Linked DNA regions of Homo sapiens: region 1 is linked to region 2. The links come from fine-mapping of genetic effects on gene expression. A gene starts in region 2. The other region holds a variant in brackets. All regions are shown on one strand. Distances are between the middles of the regions. Region 1 overlaps HIC2 (HIC ZBTB transcriptional repressor 2). Region 2 holds the start of HIC2 (HIC ZBTB transcriptional repressor 2).

Region 1 (4,359 bases), 27 kb before region 2:
CCCCGCACAGCTGGCACTCGTAAGGTTTCTCGCCCGAGTGCACACGCATGTGCTCCGTGAGGCGGTACTGACGGGTGAAGCGCATGCCACACTCATCGCAGGCGAAGGGCTTCAGGCCCAGGTGGCTCCGCATGTGACGCGTCATGGTGCCGCGCTGCGTGAACATTTTGCCACAGATGTTGCAGGGGAAGGGCCGTGTCAGCCAGTGCGTCTTCTCGTGCTGCCGCAGCGTGGCTGGGTCCTTGTAGGTCTTCTCGCAGACCGAACACTTGAAGGGCCGGGGCTCAGCCGTGTAGGCCGCACTGGGTGCTGACAGGTCCTCGGCCTCCTCCTCGGCACCCCCACTGCCTGTCTCGTAGGCCCCCTCTTCCTTGATGAACAGCTCTTCCTCCGTGTGAGTCTCCACGTGCGCATTGAGCTGCTCAGAGCTGGGGAAGCCCTTGGCGCAGGGAATGCACACATACAAGTTGTCCCCGTAGGACACCGTCTCGTAGCCCTCCTGCCGGTACATGTAGTGGGCGCTGGCATGGCCGCTGCCCCCCTCGCTCCCGCTCTGCGCACTGTCTTCACTTGCATCCTTGCCGTTCTCCTCCTCCTCCTTGCAGGGGTAGGGGGGCTCCCCATAGGGCCCGCTAGGGCCAGCCCCACTAGCCAGGATGCCATTGGGAACCCTGTCCCCGACCCCCTCACCCTCCTCTCCCGGGCAGGGACCCTTGGGCCCTGCTTCTCTCCGCTCAAAGGGGGAGCCAGCCACAGGCTCCTTCTTGCCCCACTCCTTCTTCCGAGTGGAGTGCCGGAGGCTCTTCCGAGGCTGCCCACCAGGCGCCTCCAGCAGGCTCAGGTGGTTGTCCTCGGCCCCCTCCAGATCCATGGGCTCATCAGGGGTGCCCCCCAGCTCAGAATAAGAGGCACTGTTGGCAACGGGAGGAGCAGAGGCCGCAGGGGGCGAGCCATGTTGGCTGTCGCTCAGCTGGGCTGCGTCATCGGGAGTGAGGTGGGGACCTGGGGTGGCAGGGGGCAAGGGTGGGCTTTTCTTGGACAGGTCCAAGCCCAGCTCCTGCTCGCAGCCCCCGCTGCTCCCGTTGGTGCTGCTGCTGCAGCCCCCCAGACCCGCCTCCCCGCCAGCTGGGCAGACAGCCCGGCCCAGACCTTGCACGCTATCCTGGTTAGAGCCACCAAGAAAGAGTTCATCGTCTGAGCCTTTGGCTTGGGGGAGCTCCTGGGGGGCGTGGGCCCCCTTGCGCCCATCCACGAGCCCCTGATACCGAGCTTGGATGACAGAGGCCGTGGACAGCCGCTGGCTGCGGGGGGGCCGCCCCATGCCAGTGGACCCCGCCCTCCCAGAGCCAAAGGGCTTGCCGGCTCGCTTGAGTTTGCGGCGGCAGAGGGCTGCCAACTCGGGCAGCTGGAGGTAGCTGGCGGCAGTGAGGAGGGTGCTGAAGTTGGGCTCGGCTGGCTGGTCGCTGGGCAGCAGCTTGCCTGTGTAGATGAAGTCCAAGATCTGCTGGAACACTGTGGAGCTGACCATGTCTGTGTCCAGGTTGATGAGGTTGTCGTGCAGGACCAGGGACTTGAAATAGATGCTGCTGGCGGCTAGGACGTTCTTGTGGGCCCGGAAGATGGAGTTCTCCACCATGATGATGACGTCACACAGGAAGCCCTTGGTCCTCTGCTGGTTCAGCTGCAGCAGGAGCTGCTTCGAGTGGCTGGGCAGCTCCATGTCGGGCCCCATGTCCCCGCGCCCTGCCCACGCGCACCACCTGTGGGCAAGAACAGGCACGCATGCGTCAGATGACTGGCACACTCGGACCAGGGCTCTGGGGCAGGGTGGGGCTCGACGAGGCAAAGGGCCTCAGAACTGACCCCACATAGGGCAGGAGCCCCTGCGGCACAGTACACGGCACATAAGCCCACAATGCCCACCACATGCAGGCGCAGTACACGTGTCACCTCACTGAGGACTCAAACTGAGAAGGGACAGAGGCCCCTGCCCCATTTGCACTAATGAGAAAATGGAGGTGGAGGGTGATGAGGGGACAAATAGAGAAACTGGGATTTGCATTTGGTTTCACAGCCCGGGCTACTGTCTCTACACTAAATGAAGTCAACCC[T/CCT]CAGGGACCAGAAGGGGACCCAAAAATGACCAGATGGCTTTAAACTTCGGGAAGCAGAGGACTCCGTGAGAGGAGCTTGTCTTGAAAGCTGGCAAAAATCCCCCAAAACTAAATGGTGGTTCCTTTTGAAATACGGCAGGGCCCAAATCAAACTGCCAGCAGTCATGTTGCTGCCTCCCAGATGCTGCAGTCAGCCTGCAGCCAGCCCTGCCTCTCCCCAAGGCCCTGGGCTGCCTCGCACTCTGGGCGGGCGCCAAGTGCTGCCCCAGCCTGGGCTTCCAGCTGCCAAGGAGGAAAGGTAGCTTAGGCCAAGCACCTGGCACCACCTGAACCCTCCGTCCTCTCTAGGAAGGGCAGCACCATCTGGGCCTAGGAAAGGTGGACAGCTGGCCTCCATCACACAGAATGGCACAGGCACTAACTGAGATCAGTAAGCAAGAAGCACACTGACGCCGCTGGTCTCTGCAGGAACTCTGACGGCCCAGGTGTGTTCCTGCTTATGCAGCAGCAAGACATGGGGTTCTGAGCGGGTGCTCCTCGCCACGCTTCCCATCCCCACTGAGCAGCCTCCTCTGCCATGGACCAGGCACCCCACAGTGGGAGTACAAGGGCAGGGCAAATGGGTGCACAGTGGGCACCAGATAGACGCCGGGGGGAGGAGGGAAATGTCCCTCCAAGGGCGGAGGCAAGGACTGTGGCCGGCGGTATAAAGAATGACTCTGGAAGGCTTTGAATGACTCAAAGCCATCCTCAGCCCTAAGCCCAACTCCCCAGTACAAAACGCAGTACTCCCAGCTCCATCCTCTCACCCCTACCAGAGTCCCTCAGAGAATGGCTCAGCAGGAGGGTGCTGGGGAAGGCATGCCAGTGTCCAGGTGGCCACCTGTGCCCCGGATAGGCTCACAGGCTTCCACAGGGCAGGGGGCCAGTGAAAACATGAACTTTCCTCATGGCTGACGGACAACCGAGCAGCGGGGCCCACAGGCAGCTCTGAGCCTCGCAGTTCAGGGTCCAGTCTCTCAGCAGCTGAACTACTCTGAGCCCACCGCCCTCTGGGATCTACTGCCCCTCCCAGAGTGTCCAGCCCTGCCTCCCAGAGCAGAGGCCTGGAAAGGGTCCCACCCTACCCAACCTTCTCATGACAGAAACTCTCCCCAGCCTCATGCCTACCCTTGTTTGCAAAGACAAAGAAAAACCCTAACATTCACAGGCCCCTGAAGGTGCCAGAGCTCAATGTGAACACGCAAGGGTGCAACACAGCCTGGAACACCGCTGGCACTCAGAGCCTAACAGCAAGAGGCAGCAAGCACCCGCCAGCGGCTCTCTGCCTAGCAGCCCAGCCCACAGCAGTTCAGGAGGGTGCTCATGGGCTGGAGACTTCGTGAACCAATCCTCCTCCACTCCCTGCCCGCCTCAACCCACCAGGCAGGGACAAAGAGCCCCCAAGGTGTGGCTTCCACACTTGGCCCCAGTAACCTAGCCCCCAGAAAACATCAGTGCCGGCTCTGCCAGCACCCAGACACCTGGTACCCCGAGACTGGCAAGGGGACTGGAAGAGGGCAGTGGCCTCCAGGCTCCCTCCACACTGCCCAGTGCTGTGTGCACACAAAGGACCACGGGTCAGACAGATAGAGGCCGAGCTGTGGGGCTGTGTGCCACCCAGAAACTCCGGGGAAAGGGGCCAGTGGCGGTCCCCCCTCCCCTGCGCCTCACCGGAGTGCCAAGGGCCCAGACACCATGTGAGCAGCAGCCAGCGGCGGGGGGGGCTCCTGAGCGCGTGGCCTTCCTGGGGGTGCATCAATGCCTGGTCACCTGGGGAAGAGAAGACGAACACAGTCACCCAGACAGCCATCAGCGAAGAAGGGAGGGAAGGGCGATGAAGGGACGCACCTGGGGGTCTCTGGCTGGGGCACCAGGGGCAGCCCAGCAGGAGACTGTGGCCACAGAGCCTGGTAGTTGGATCTGACAGCCAGGAAGAGTAAGGACCAGCGAACAGGTCTAGGGAGTTCGGTGGGTGCAATGCCTGCCCCTCTAACACACACAGGAGATTAAGGACACCCAGGGGCCACCTAGGCCAGGGGGCGCTGGTGGCAGACACACAATTCTTGGCCTGCGGGTGTGGTAGCAGGAGGCCTGGGCAGGGCCCTTCCCAAGCTGGCCACATTTACATAACAAAAGGTCAAAATTGGAGCCACTTGTGCAAGGGCTATTTATAAGAACCAGTCTCAACCGCTTTTGGCTCCCCCGT
Region 2 (4,377 bases):
TGCTGATTAAATGGCACTTCCCCACCCCTCAGATCTGACCCCGCAAACAATAAGGACTTGAGGGGAGGCGGCAGGCTATCAGCTCAATAATGCAAAACCCTGTTGCTCCTCGTCCACAACAGCTGACTTCAAGTGGATGGGAGGCTGCGCTTATTAACAAAATGAGAAATCTGATCTACGGAAAGAAAACACTACGTGAGGATTAATCTGCGACTGCAGCTTGTGGAGAAGGCTGGGCTGCTGGCCAAGACCAAGGATCGAGGATGGGATCGTGCCTACCTGTCCCCAGAGCAGGTATCATGCAGCACAACAGGACTCATCACCCCTGCCCCACCTGCGCCTTCTCTTCTCCTTCCAGCAACTTCGACAATCATTTCGGTTTTGCTTTAATTAAAGGCCTGACTCCCTCGGGCTGCTTCTTCCTCTACACAGAGGCAGCAACCAGAGGGAGATTTTTCTTTTCAGGAATCGGTCGTAAAAACTCAGTGACTAATCTACAAGTTCCAACAACTGGCAGAAAAACACCGCAGGGAGAGGTTGCTGGGCACACAGCAGCACTCAGAGCCAACTGACCAGAGAAGCTGGGCCACAGGCACTCTACTACAACCTCCCTCCCCCAGCCCGACACTGGCCTGCCGACCCACCTGAGAGCTCTGACCTCCCAAGGCAGGCAGCTGGGGAGCCTCTTCCCAGCCTTCCAAGTCTACTGCTCGTCCTGTGGGACCCAGAGATCTTCACAGTCTCAATGGCACAAGACGGAACGTTCACTTCCAGGCAACAATCCTGCGCCACAGGACTCAGTTCAGCCCCCAAGTATCAGACTCCCGGCCCTGTTCTTGGTGTTCAGAGCCCACTAAACCAGCAGTCTTGCCACACAGCTTTGTCTCCAGAGGCCAGCTCATCTGCTTTTTTTCACACTACTCCAGCAACCCTGCTCCACCAAGCACGCACACTCTCCTTGACACAGGGCTCCAGACCAACCACATGGCCTGTGCTCCTGAAAATGCCTGCCTGAAGGCCCAGGGAGTCCAGACACTGGCAGATGAGAATGGACGAAAAGAAGCCAAGCCAGAAGCCAGGAAGCAATAAATGCTAGACCCAGAAAGGCCTTAGGTTTGAGTGACCCAGCTCCATCCCTCCATCCTGGATCCTTGGAGGACAGCCCCAAGTTCAGCCTAGGAGCTCCCAAGGCCCCTCCACTACCTGCCAGCTCTCCGACAGCACAAGAGACACAGCAATCCCACATCAGTCAACAACCCACCGCCACAGGATTCCTAGGGGCAAGGCTCTGCCCCTCCCCCCAGCACATATGTCAGAGGGGTGGCTTCCCTGGGTTACACCCCTCCTGCTGTTGGGGGAGTGGGGGGTCGGGGAACACAGCTTTCCAGATGTGCTTGGCAACTCCTACTAGAAAAGACTAGGGGTGCGGGGGACAGGAGAAGACATGGATAAATAACTTTAACACCGCTCCAACCCATCCGGCTCAGCACTGGGCTCCCTTACACAGGCAGTCCCAGGCAGTTCTGGGTGGGGCCGTTGGGAGCATTATCTGGCCTCATTCCCTCCTCTCAGCAAGTCACTGCCCCCCAGGGAGAGGCATTCCCCCCCACCCCCCCCAACCACGCACACACCCAGGCCTGTGTGAATATGAACCATCTTGGAAGATAAACAGAGAGTGACAAGCTGGGGCCCCTCAGCCCCCTCCCTCAGCCAGCCGGTCCCTTCCCCCTGAAAGCCGACCCCCTCCCCCAAGCCCATCTCTCTTCCTGCCAAGCGGCTGCCTACAGGAGAGGTCTGGGGGCAGGGCAGCGAGCCCACCAGCCGCAGAGCCCGGCCCTCTGGGAGCGGCCCCTCCAGGCCCGCCCCTGCCCCTGCCGTGGCCAGTCTTCCCGCGGGGAGGAGGCAAGAGGAGAGGAGACCGCAGACGGTGCAGGACCGCAGTCCTGGAAATCGCAAAATCCTCTAGCGAGGGGGCGAACGCGGGCGCAGGGCCGTTTGCATAATGGGAGCCCTCCCGCCTGTCAGGCAGCGCAGCTCGCCCGACGCTGTTCGGATTAGATTGCTAATGAAAAGGCACAAAGAGCCGGCGCCCGCTCGCCCGCCGACCCCCGCTCCGCAGACCCGCGCCGCCTGGGCCTGGCGCGGCCCGGTGGGCTTTGTGCCCCGGGTGCCCCACCGCCCGCGCCCCTCCGGGCATCTGGCCCACAAAGCCCGGGCCTGCCAGGGGTCCCGCGTGCGCCCCAGCCCAGGCCCGCCAGACGCTAGCGCGTCCCCCACGCGCGCAGTCCCACGTCGCCCGGGCGCGCGCGCGTCCACGCCCCTCTCCCCGGGGACGCGCCCAGCCCGCGGCCCCGGCCCCCGCCCGCTCCCCGCGCCCCCCGCCCCACAAGGCCGCCCCTCACCTCGTGTGCGTCGGCGGCGGCGCTCCGCCCGCCGGCCGGCCGGCCCTACCAGCGGCCCTTGTCCTCAGCGCCCGGCTCGCGCCGCACGCGCCCGCCCCGTCCGCCTGCCGCCAGCCCGGCTCGGCTCCCCGCCTAGCGCGCCCCGAGCGCCGCTCACAGCCGCCCGCCCAGCGCCATCTTGGAAGCTTGTGACGTCGGCGCCGCCCGCTCACCCCTGACCCACATCTGAATGGGCGAGCGGCGGGGCGGGGACAGGGGGCAGCTGGGGGCGTGGCCTGTGAACAGGGGCGGGGCCTGCGGGGGCGGGGCCGGGCCGGACAGCGGTCCCAGCACTAGGCGGGGCGGGCTGCCGGGGTCCGGCGCCGTGGGGGAGGGGTGCGCGGGAGGAGCCGGGGACCCAGACCCCGGACATCTAACCGGACTCCGACCTCAAGCGCCAGGGCAGGACCGCGACCTCGCCCCTGAAATACCCGGACCGCATACCGGCCCCCGGGACAGGGACCCTGGCCCCCCCCGACAGGCTGACGCCCACCCCCTCAAACTCTGGTGGACTTACCCCCTTTTAGCCCTACCCTGACCCCTAGGAGCCCCGAATTAGGGACCTCTATCGGCCTACGCGCCCCCTCCCCGACCCCTTTGCGACCCCTGCTCGACGCTCCCTGCGGTTGCCCGAGGCTCAAAGGCGCAGCCAGCAGTGACTGCAAGCTCGGGGGTCTGGGCTCCTGGGGAAGCCCGGGCTGGTTGGGTGCAAAAGAGAAGGGGCGCCCCTCCCGTGACCCCAGCGCCCCTCGGGCCCCCGCGGGCGCACCCCCGCGAACCCTACCTGCTCCGAGGGCGCGGAGGACCCAGCACGCTGCGCTCAGCCAGCCCCTTCCGGTGGCCGCAGCCCCTCGCAGGCCCCAGGGGTCAAGCGCCTGCCCGAGCCGGCCCACCAGGACCCGGGCTCCCGGCCGCCATGCAGATAGCCTTCCCAGGGGCTGGGCTGGCCTGAGCCGCCACTGCTTCTCTAGGGAGCTAGTTAATGGACCGCTCTCTACTTTGAACACCAAACAAAGGAACACACCACTATCGAGGTCGCCCAAGTCCAAGAGGAGCCCAGGTCTGCCTTACAGGGAAGTTGTGCCCCAGCTCCAGTCAAGATCAAAAACCAGTTTCAATAACCCTTCGCCAAGCTGATGATGCAACCTTTCTTTCCTAATGGATGTATAGGTTTAATGTCATCCTAACAACATTTCTTAGACTTCACAAAATTCTAAGTTCACCTGGAAAAATAAATAGCCGAAAACAGCTATGGTTTTCCCCCCTTGGGAACAAAAGCAGGCATGAGGGTAGACTTGCCCTAACAGATATCAAAACAAATTGTAAAGCTACCGCAGGCATTTCAGTGTGGTACAGAACAGGAAATAGAATAGAAAGCCTAGAAACATCCTAGAAATGGTAAGAACACAATAGATGAAAAAGGAAATATCAAACATCTGTGGAAAAAAAAGAGCTATCAAACATCCCTGAAGAAGAACAAGAATATTCCACAAATAGAGCCTAGCAGAGGACTCACTATTTGAAGGAACGACTGAAAAAAAAAGTCAACCATTCTACTAACCCAAGACATATAAATTAAAACTATAGGCCGGGCGCGGTGGCTCACGCCTGTAATCCCAGCACTTTGGGAGGCCAAGGCGGGCGGATCACGAGGTCAGGAGATCGAGACCATCCTGGCTAACACGGTGACACCCCGTCTGTACTAAAAATACAAAAAATTAGCCAGGCGAGGTGGCGGGCGCTTGTAGTCCCAGCTACTCGGGAGGCTGAGGCAGGAGAATGGCGTGAACCCCGGGGGGCGGAGCCTGCAGTGAGCCGAGATCGTGCCACTGCACTCCAACCTGGGCGACAGCGAGACTCCGTCTCAAAAAAATAAATAAATAAATAAAATAAAACTATAAGAAGCTGGGTTTTCTCCTAAACAAATTAAAAATCA

What was found. PIP is the estimated chance that this variant, and not a neighbour inherited with it, causes the effect.
Region 1: its variant is the best candidate, but not a certain one, in a credible set for the expression of HIC2 in whole blood (TOPMed, PIP 0.61).

What each region holds. Positions count from the first base shown.
Region 1 is chr22:21,442,323-21,446,681 of GRCh38, reverse strand. It overlaps HIC2 (HIC ZBTB transcriptional repressor 2), which reads right to left. Exons shown (of 3, transcript NM_015094.3): 2 at 3,825-3,923; 3 at 1-1,760. The coding sequence starts at 3,850. Among named protein-coding and RNA genes, the nearest start is that of TMEM191C, 23 kb to the left of the region's middle. The variant T/CCT (reference allele first, on the strand shown) is at 2,112.
Region 2 is chr22:21,415,586-21,419,962 of GRCh38, reverse strand. HIC2 (HIC ZBTB transcriptional repressor 2) reads right to left here and starts at 2,592. Exons shown (of 3, transcript NM_015094.3): 1 at 2,403-2,592.